Linked DNA regions of Homo sapiens: region 2 is linked to region 1. The links come from fine-mapping of genetic effects on gene expression. A gene starts in region 1. The other region holds a variant in brackets. All regions are shown on one strand. Distances are from middle to middle.

Region 1 (5,369 bases):
TTGGCTCCATGACCTTGGGTAACTTAAATCCTCTGAGGCTCAGCTTTCTCTTCTGTAAAGTGGCCTGATGTGATGCTGCCCTCTGAGGGTGTCATGAAGCTAAAATATGATCAAATGTGTGACGCTCTTGTAAAAAAAACACTCAGTAATTGTTCATTAGCATTGTCCTACAACCACCACCACCAAAAAAAAAAAAAAAAAAAAAAAAAGAAAGAAACAAAGAAAAGAAAAAAGAAGGGAAAAGAAAAGAAAGCATTATAAACAAAATACCAGAGTACATTGTTTTGCTCTGAGGATGCCTGAAATGCCACATTAAGGCTGTTTGATGGGAACCTCCAGAAATAAGGAAGGGAAGAGGGGAAACTAAAGGAATCTCTCAATCTCTGGCTCCTCACTATGAATGAGATACTGTATGTTCTCTTGGATTGGCTATTTTTTTTCTTTTTCTTTTTCTTTTTTTTTTTAATTTTTTTTTTTTTTTTTTGAGACAGAGTCTCACTCTGTCGCCCAGGCTGGAGTGCAGTGGTGCGATCTCGGCTTACTGCAAACTCCGCCTCCTGGGTTCATGCCATTCTCCTGCCTCAGCCTCCCAAGTAACTGGGACTACAGGCGCCCACCACCACACCCAGCCATTTTTTTGTATTTTTAGTAGAGACGGGGTTTCACCGTGTTATCCAGGATGGTCTCGATCTCCTGACCTCGTGATCCGCCCCCCTCGGCCTCCCAAAGTGCTGGGATTACAGGCGTGAGCCACTGCGCCCGGCTTTTTTTAAAGTTTCTGAGATTCAACCAGAGCCTACTTAGAACTGGGTTGGCTTTTGTGGGACCTACAGGGAGGTGGCAGTGAGACCTAAGGTGTCAGAGAAGCAAAGGAGCACAGACTGGTGAAGGCTCGGGTGCCGAGGAAGCACCCCCAGCATCACAATTTTGTCCCAGTGTTGGGCAGAGGAGAAATGTCCTTAGCTTGTCTCCTCTTCTCCCTCTCTCCCTCTTTCCTTTGCCTTCATACCTTAAGTTGACTTTCCCATCTTTCTCCTGGGAGATTTATTTCTGTCCCTTTTTTCATCTAAAGCAACGGAAATGAATCATCTTTCAGCCGGTTTAATAAACAGCCCCATGCCCCCTGACCCCAGCTGACTCTCTCACTGGTTCCTCTGTGGCTGCTCCTGGGCTAGGCCTCACCCCCTCACAGGCAAGACCCCCTCATGGCTGGCTATTCTTGGTAATACTCTCCACCCTCCCTTCCTGCTCAGTCCTGGCAGCTTGACCTCCTCCACCCCAGGGATGACGGGAATCACACACAGCATTCCAAGCGACAATTCCACAAGCTGACCATAGGGGCAGGGGAAGCAAGGAGGCCACCATGTTTGGAGGGTTTCTTTGTGCCATTTCAATGACCCTATTAGTGGATCTTACGCTCTCCATTTAACAGTTGAGGGTTTGGAGGCTCAGAGAAGTGAAGGAACTTGCCCAGAGACAAACAGTTGGGAAATGTGGAAATGAAGGAGTCAACATTTAAAGCCTGAATTTCTGGATTCCTGAATTCATTCCATTACACCATATTGCTGTGCGTGTGTGTGCACGTGTGTGCTTGCGCCCGCATGTATGTTGAATGGGAGTGTGGGCAGGTCAGCTAGAACATCAGCTGCAATTCACCAGGATGGAAACCTGATTTTATCCTGAAGGTTAACACCTGTCTATCATATGCATATGGCTTAATGCATCTGTGTGCATTAAGGTATTAACCTACATAGAAGATGGCAAGTATGTACAGTATATATTTCACCAGGAGGCCCATGAGTCATTGCAGATGATGTCAAGGAGTAACGAAGATGATGTCAAGCAGTAACAAAGATGGGAGAGAGGGAAAGAGGAAATGAAATGCCCACATTTAAGACCACCTATACCCTGCCTTCACCTCGCGGTGATGGAACTTCACAGGTTAAAGTGCCTGGCTGTGTCCACCTTGGTGAAACCACACTTTTCTGGTGAACAAAATCATGCAACTATTAGTTGGACTTCTAAAAATGTGCAGGTATCATTTATAGGAGCAATATGGAATACAGACATAAAACTGCTGACGTCAAACTCCCTGGTGTGGACATGTGTATGTGTCTGCGGTCAGAGAGTGGAATTAACACAAGTATATAAATAACCGTGATGCAAGGTAGATAGAAAGTGCTCAGGTCCAAAACAAATAGACAGATACTACAAGAGTATTCTTGGAGACCCAGAGGCTGGAAAGATTACTCCAGGCAGGGTATCACAGAGGGCTTCCTGAGGAGGTGGCATTTGCATATAAATACGTCTCCAAATAGATGTAAGATCTTACATTAACAGAACGCTTTAACAGAAGTTAGATTCTGGTTAATTTTCCAAGAAGCGCTGAGATGCAGACATATGCCCTTGTTCCTCTTTCATAGACGCGGAAACTGAGACCCACAGAGGTTGAATAGGTTGTCCACAGTCTCGTAGCTACCAAGTGACAGGCCACGATTTGATCTCAGGCCAGTGTGTTAAACTCCAATTTGCGTGCTCCTGTCCCTCCCCGCGCGTCGGCGGAGCTCGGGGCCGGACTGGACCTGCCGAGGGAGGGGCGGACAGTCCTGACGGTGCGGGGCGGGGCTGGCGGCTGCCCAGGCCTGGCTGAGGCGCCGCGGCCGGGTCCCTCTCCACCTGCCGGGCGGAGCGCACGGGCCATGGGCTGAGCCCCGCTGAGCCCGCCGGGCCGGCCATGGGCGATCGCGAGCGCAACAAGAAGCGGCTGCTGGAGCTGCTGCGGGCGCCGGACACAGGCAACGCGCACTGCGCCGACTGCGGGGCGGCAGGTAAGGGCGCGGCGGCGCGGGCAGCGCGAGACCCCCGGCCGGACCCCAGGCCCACCCGACTCCTCCCCTCGGCCCCACCGGGTCCCGCCCTCGGCCCCCTGGACCCAGACGTGGCACCTGCGGGCCCCGACCCCTCCCACCCACACCGTGAACCTCTCACCCGAGCCCCGAGGGCCGTCTCCACCACACCCTGCCCCGGCCCCTACGAGCCCAGGCTCTGCTCCCCTCGCGGGACCAGATGCGCATCTTCCCACGTGCTTGGACCCGGACACGAGAGCCGGCAGCCTAGAGCCCTTCCAGTCCCGCTCTCTTCCCTGGCCAGGCACCCGACCGCCCGAGTCCGGGCTCTCGATGTCTGCGCACCCAGGCGCGCCCCACGCCCTCGGACTCAGACATCCCAGCCAGGGCTAAACGTCGGGCCCAGGCCGCCGACAGTCCTGTGCCCCCTGCCCGCTCCCAGACGCCCCCCGAAGGCCTCCCCAGCGCCCCACCTCGGGGACGCCGAGGGCCCCCTAACTCAGCCTCCCCACCTGCAGCTCCGCGCCGAGCCCCGCGGTGCGCCCCCCGCGCCCTCCTCTCGGTTCCTTCTGAGTCCCTTCACTTCCACGTCGCGCAGCCTCAGACTCTCTCCCCGGGCCCTGAACTGCCTCCAGGATCTTCACCCCGGTCGCCGCGCAGCGGCCGGTGGGCTAACCAGAAGGTGCCAGGCTGGCCGCTTAGTTCGCCTTAGGTGGGAGAAGGGGCGCCCCACCTGCCCCAGTGCCCCGAGCCCAGCCCTGGTTTCTTCACCGCGCTTTCCGCTCAGCTCCTCTCCTGCCTCATCCCCTGCAGATCCCGACTGGGCCTCTTACAAGCTGGGGATCTTCATCTGTCTCAACTGCTGCGGCGTCCACCGTAACTTCCCTGACATCAGCAGAGTTAAATCTGTGCGACTTGACTTCTGGGACGACAGTATTGTGGAGGTAGAAAGGCATGCCCGTGGAGAGCCATGGAACTGCGGGACTGGAGTAGAGGCAGCGGGCAGGGGGCTCCCATTCTACAGAGGGGGAAACTGAGAACCAGAGAGGGGCAAGTCTAGCTAGAGGAAACACAGCTTATAAGATGGCAGCTTAGACAGAGGCCGAGAGTTCAAATTCTGGCTCTATCATTTGCTTACTTTTTTTTTTTTTTTTTTGAGACGGAGTCTCGCTGTGTTGTCCAGGCTGGAGTGCAGTGGAGCAATCTTGGCTCACTGCAACCGCTGCCTCCCGGGTTCAAGTAATTCTCCTGCCTCAGCTTCTCAAGCAGCTGGGATTACAGGCGCCTGCCACCACACCCGGCTAATTTTTTTGTACTTAGTAGAGACGGGGTTTCACCATGTTGGTCACGCTGGTCTCGAACTCCTGACCTCAGGCGATCCACCACCTCAGCCTCCCAAAGTGCTGGGATTACAGGCCTGAACCATCCTGAACCGCTCCTGGCCATCATTTGCTTACCTATAAGCTGGGAGGCCCTGAGCTAGGTACTTTGACCTAGCTGTGGACCCTCAGTTTCCACATCTGTATTCAAGGGATACCACCACCATTTCTCTTTTTTTCTTTCTTCCTTTTTTTTTTTTTTTTTTTTTTTTGAGACGGAGTTTCACTCTTGTCGCCCAGGCTGGAGTGCAACGGCCAATCTCGGCTCACTGCAACCTCTGCCTCTTGGGTTCAAGCAATTCTCCTGCCTCAGCCTCCTGAGTAGCTGGGATTACAGGCACCCACCACCATGCCCCGCTAATTTTTGTATTAATTTTTAGCAGAGACGGGGTTTTGCCATGTTGGTCAGTCTGGTCTCGAACTCCTGACCTTGGGTAATCCACCCTCCTCGGCCTCCCAAAGTGCTGGGATTACAGGCGTGGGCCACTGTGCCTGGCCACTACCACCAATGTCACAGCACTGTTGTGAAGATGATTGTAGGCTCAGTCCAGACACAAAGAAAGCTGTCAGTTAACAGTTGCTGTTGTACGGGTGTGGTGGCTCACACCTATAATCCCAGCACTTTGGGGGGCTGAGGCTGGTGGATTGCTTGAGCCCAGAAGTTCAAGAGCAGCCTGGGCAACATGGTGAAACCCCGTCTTTACAAAAAATACAAAAATTAGCTGGGTGTGATGGCATGCGCCTGTCGTCCCAGATACTTCGGGGGCTGGGGTGGGAAGATCACCTGAGCCTGTGAGAGTGTGGCTGCAATGAGCTGAGATCGCACCACTGCACTCCAGCCAGGGTGAGAGTGAGACCCTACCTCAAAAAAAAAAAAAAAGTTGCTGTTATCATTAGTGAAGTCTTGGACTGGGGGAAGGGAAATAACCTGATTTGTGGTCTAAAGTCCTCCTTTCCCCCTAGGCAGAAAGAGGACCACTTTGCTCTCCTGCCCTCTGGGGGTGGAGGATACCCTCAGCCTGCATGGTAATTCCATTTTGGTCAGAAAACCTCCAGAGAGCAGGCAGTTCTGCACTGTGCGGGTTGGCTGAGGGTTTCCAGGACTATTGGGGAAGCAGGCTGACATTTACTGAATGCCTACTCT
Region 2 (5,369 bases), 37 kb after region 1:
AGCCTGGGTGACAGAGTGAGGCCCTGTCTCCAAAAACAATTCATAATAATAATTAATAATTTTTTTTTGTAGAGAAGGGGTCTCACTATGTTGTCCCGGTTGGTCTCATATTCCTGGCCTCAGGCAATCCTCTGCCTTGGCTTCCCAAAGTGCTAGGATTACAGGCATGAACTACCAGGCCCACCCTCGGTATCTTTTCAATAGATGATGTGTATGATTTATTTTAGGGTTTTGATCTTTCAAATTCTGGGTCCCACTTAGCAGAAATCCCAGCAGGGACCTCATACCCCTTTCCCAAAATAAAGCTTGGAGGCTGTCAGGGCTGCAGGGCCCCTCTGCCCTGGGGGCACCCTCTGATGACCCTGTACTCTCCATTTTCAGGATGCCTTCGAGCAGGGCCAGGTTTTTCTTGGGAACAAGGAGCAGGGATATGAAGCCTACGAAGACCTGCCCAAGGGCATCCGAGGAAATCGCTGGAAAGCCGGACTCACCATTGTCACCCCAGAGCGGAGATTTGTCCTCACTTGCCCCAGTGAGAAGGAACAGCAGGAATGGCTGGAAAGTTTGCGGGGTGTCCTGTCCAGCCCCTTGACGCCCCTCAACCGGCTTAGTAAGAAGCAGGAACTGAGGGGTGTTCTTTTGGACAAGGGCAGAGGACAGAAAATTGCTTCTTCACTTAGGTTCAGCTTTGATACCACAAAAGATTCCTGATTCCTGACTATGCTCTTTTCATTGTCTTCTCTTCCTGCAAAAGAAAAGCACAGACATGCCATTATTGCCAAAAGGTCTCCTCTGTCCACTCTGGGTTCCCCTAACCGAGCCCTTCCCCAGGAGCTTTTAGAGGAGTTTGGCCCTGGCAGAACCCCTGGGTGCTGTCTGTACCCCTTGCGGTGTGGGGGCTAAGCAGCTTCTCTTTCCCTCCACCGTGCTCTATGCTGATCCTTTTTCTCGTGAGAAAACGCTGGCCTGTTATTATTAGCTAAGGTCACACCCGCTGGGCAGCTCCTGGGATTTTTGGATTCCTCCCCACTCCAGAGGGAAGGCTATTTCTAGTGGCTTCTTTTCTTTGAGTCCTCCCTTCTGTCTGCCTCTCTCCTGTTCCTCCTCTTTACCAGTAGGGCTTCCTCAATGCTGACAGCCCTGTGAAAAAAGGGGAGACATGCCGAGCTCCGGCAGGAAACTGCTGGCCCAGGACCTGGCTTCTGGGGCACAAAGGAGAATTTCTGTGTTTGGAAAAGTACAGACTGAGCAGGTGACCCCCGCACAGCCCCTTGGGGGAAACACTTGTGCCCTTTGAGTCTGACTGATATAAACACAGACTCTCTTGACTGTCCCATAAAGGCCAAAGCCAGAGAACCTCAGAAAGGGACTTGCAAATTGTGAGTGAGGCATATCAGCTGGTGCTTTCTTTTCTCTGTGGGCTGCCATTTATGAATCTCTTGGTTTCTCTCTGTCTCTGTCCCTCCACTTTTCTCTCCTTTGCTGGTGTGTGCATTCCCTCTGACGCCCTGGCTCTCACTCTTTCATTCTGTTTTTTATTCTGGCTCCCTCTGTCTTTGTGTTTTTTTTTTTAATTTTCTTTTTTTGAGGTGGGGTCTTGCACTGTCACCCAGGCTGGAGTGCAGTGGTGCGATCTCAGCTCACTGCAACCTCTTCTTCCTGGGCTCAGGCAATCCTCTCACCTCAGCCTCCCAAGTAGCTGGGACTACAGGCTCGTGACACCACATCTAGCTAATTTGTTTTGTATTTTTGGTAGAGACAGAGTTTCACCATGTTGCTCAGGCTGGTCTCGAACTCCTGAGCTCAAGTGATCCACCTGCCTCGGCCTCCCAAAGTGCTGGGATTACAGGCATGAGCCACTGTGCCCGGCCATGGCTCCCTCTGTCTTTGTACGCCTGTCCCTTTGCTGTCCCTCTCCTCCACAGGACAGCATTGGCATGGCCACCTCCCTCAGCCCTCTTCATTTCCCTTGCAGCTGCATCAACAGAGAGTGGCCGCAGCAGCAGGTGACCCATTAACTGAGGAACTGGCTGCCACTGAACACCTGGAACTCCTTGTGGGAAGAAGTTTGCACCTCGGCCCTGGCTGCCCACCATCAGTGCCCCGCAGTCAGCAGCCATTCCTGGCAGTGAACTCTGCCAGGACTGAAGCTGTGGCTTTATCCATCAGCTCCCTGGGCCTTCCCCGCAACCCACCTCGGGGATCTGAGGATCTGGTGCATAGATGAACATCTATCCCCTCCTCCCCCATACACACCTAGGCTTGAAATGCCCTACAGGCCCAGAACTTTCTCACATCTGAAATGGAGGCATTGCAATGAAAAGGCACCCACAGCATCATGCAAGTGGCATCTTGTAAAAAAAAAAAAAAAGTTTAATCTGAATCTAACCATGAGGAAATAATCAGACAAATCCACATTAGGGGCATTCTGCTAAACATCTGACCCAGACTCTTCAAAAATGAAGAGTGAAAGATAAAGTAGTCAATGGCCGGGCGCAGTGAGATTGCGCCATTGCATTCCAGCCTGGGTGACAGAGCGAGACTCCGTATCAGAAAGAAAAAGAGGAACTGAATGAAATCTCAGATGGCTGAAATGTTAGAGAAACAGAGCACCAAGTCCCCTGCTCTGTGACTCGTTGTTCCTTTCCTCTGTCTTCAAGCACCACGCAGAAATACACTGGATGTTCTCTCTTTGCTTCAATGGAGACCCAAGGAGCTGGGAGGTCTCTTAAGAGACTCTCTGATTCTCCGTGGCTGGGTGTGATGGCTCATGCCCATAATCCCAGCCCTTTGGGAAGCTGAGGCAGGAGGATTGAGACCAGGAGTTCGAGAAGAGCCTGGGCAACATAGTGAGACCCCATCTCTACAAAGAAAAAAAAATTAGCTGGACATGGTAATGAATGCCTGTAGTCCCAGCTACTCCGGACACTGATGTGAGAGGATCACTTGAGCCAGGGAGGTCATGGCTACAGTGACCCCTCATTGCACCACTTTACTTAGCCTGGGTGACAGAGTGAGACCCTATCTCAAAAAAAAAAAAAATCTATGCATTGTATGGGACTTTCCTTTGGATCCCCCAATCAAAGGATAAGCAATGCGTAAGCCTGTGTCCTTCCTGAAGCTTCTCGACTGCCCAGATA[G/A]GGAGGTGAGTCCTCTCTATCTCCTCTGGCTCTGGAAGCACCTTGAAAATGTGCATTTTCAAGGACACTTGCTGGGTTGTGCATTAAGGGCCAGTTTACTTGTCTGCCTCTTTGACCACCTGTGAACTCTGTTGGGTGTACTCTGCTAAGTTCTGGGGATGAGGAAATTAATAAAGGTACAGTCTTGCCTTCAAGGAACTTATGGTCTAGAGGAGAAGAACGAGAAGTATAGATAGGCAGTAACAAAGCTACTTGAAGAGGCCAACTGGGATTCTAAGGGTGGGAAAGAACAGACACAAGAGATAAAGTCCTAATGAAATGGAGTGCTTGGTTTTGGATGATTCCTTCCTCAAGGAAGAGTATGCTTCTATACTCTTATATTAAATCCCTTTTTCCCTTTTTGGCTTGTTAGTGCAAGGAAGTTTCTATTACTTGAATCAGTCCTGACAGATAAAGTTCTCTAAAAGAGATGATACCTATGCTGAATCCTGAAGAAAGAGTAGAAGATAGTTGGGTTGGGGTGGGAGGAGGCAGAGAAAGAAGCATGTGTAAAGGCTCAGAGATATCAGGTGTGCACGTGCCTGTAGTCCTAGCTACTGGGGAGGGTGAGGTGGGAAGATCATTTGAGCCCAGGAGTTCTGGGCTTTAGTGCACAATGCTAATTGGGTGTCCACACTAAATTTGGCATCAACATGGTGACCTCCCAGGAGTGAGGAATCACCAGTTTGCCTAAGGAGGGGTGAACTGGCCCAGATCAGAAATGAAGCACTTCCGTGCTGGTCAGTAGAGGGATCATGCCTGTGAACAGCCATTGCACTGCAGCCTGGGCGACAAGAGGGAAACTCCGTCTAAAAAAAGAAAATAGCTAGGCATGGGCACTGTAATGCATGCCTGTAGTCCCAGCTACTCAGGAGGCAGAGGTGGGAGGCTTGCTTGGGCCTGGGGGGTTATGCACTCCAGCCTGGGTGACAGAGTGAGACTCCGTCTCCAAAAAAAAAAAAAAGAAAAAGAAAAGAAAATTTGAATCACACTTCACTTGTATTAGCGTTCTCCAGAGAAACAGAACCAATGATATACATATATATATATATGGCTATAGAAAGAAATTTATTGGCCGGGCACGGTGGCTCACGCCTATAATCCTAGCACTTTGGGAGGCCGAGGCAGGCAGATCATGAGGTCAGGAGATCAAGACCATCCTGGCCAACATGGTGAAACCCCGTCTCTACTAAAAATACAAAAATTAGCTGACTGTGGTGGCACGTGCCTGTAGTCCCAGCTACTCAGGAAGCTGAGGCAGGAGAATCGCTTGAACCCGGCAGGCGGAGGTTGCAGTGAACCAAGATTGCGCCACTGCACTCCAGCCTGGCGACAGAGTGAGACTCCGTCTCAAAAAAAGAAAAAGAAAAAGAAAAAAAAAAAAGCCAGGCATGGTGGCATGTGCCTGTAGTCCCAGCTACTCAAGGCTGAACTCCCACTTAAGCCTGAGATTTCAAGACTGCAGTGAGCTATGGTCTCACCACTGCACTCCAGCCTGGGTGACAGAGTGAGACTCTGCTTCAGCAAAGAACAGTTATGTCACACCCCAAAACTCCCTTGTAGCCACACCCTTCCCCTGCCCCGTGGCAACCATTGATCCGTTCATCATTATAGATTGTACTTTCAAAAATGCCATATAAATGGAATCATTTAATATGTAATTTTTATTTTATTTTATTTTATTTTATTTTATTTATTTTATTTTATTTTTTTTTTTTTGAGACAGAGTCTTGCTCTGTCGCCCAGGCTGGAGTGCAGTGGCGCAATCTCGGCTCGCTGCAAGCTCCGCCTCCCGGGTTCACGCCATTCTCCTGCCTCAGCCTCCCGAGTAGCTGGGACTACAGGCGCCCGCCACTATGCCTGGCTAATTTTTTGTATTTTTAGTAGAGACAGGGTTTCATCATGTTAGCCAGGAGGGTCTCGATCTCCCAACCTCGTGATCCACCTGCCTCGGCCTCCCAAAGTGCTGGGATTACAGGCATGAGCCACCACGCCAGGCCTGTAATTTTTAAAGACTGGATTCTTTCACAGCACATGATACCTTTGAGATTCATCAAAGTCACTGCATGTGTCAATATGTCTTTCCTTATTGCTAAGAAGTATTCCACTATATGGCTATACCATACCTTGTTTATCCAGTGGAATGCTGCTTAGCAATAAAAAGGAACAAATTATTCATACATACAACAG

What was found. PIP is the estimated chance that this variant, and not a neighbour inherited with it, causes the effect.
Region 2: its variant is fine-mapped to the expression of ADAP2 in whole blood (TOPMed, PIP 0.96).

What each region holds. Positions count from the first base shown.
Region 1 is chr17:30,919,281-30,924,649 of GRCh38, forward strand. ADAP2 (ArfGAP with dual PH domains 2) reads left to right here and starts at 2,665. Exons shown (of 11, transcript NM_018404.3): 1 at 2,665-2,828; 2 at 3,660-3,790. The coding sequence starts at 2,735. RefSeq lists silencers at 2,406-2,845, 2,986-3,035, 3,196-3,355.
Region 2 is chr17:30,955,860-30,961,228 of GRCh38, forward strand. ADAP2 (ArfGAP with dual PH domains 2) reads left to right here. Exons shown (of 11, transcript NM_018404.3): 10 at 382-610; 11 at 1,976-3,463. The coding sequence ends at 2,010. It also overlaps a transcript of RNF135 not described here and the pseudogene RN7SL138P. Among named protein-coding and RNA genes, the nearest start is that of RNF135, 12 kb to the right of the region's middle. RefSeq lists enhancers at 1,355-1,404, 1,988-2,487 and a silencer at 4,614-4,663. The variant G/A (reference allele first, on the strand shown) is at 3,141.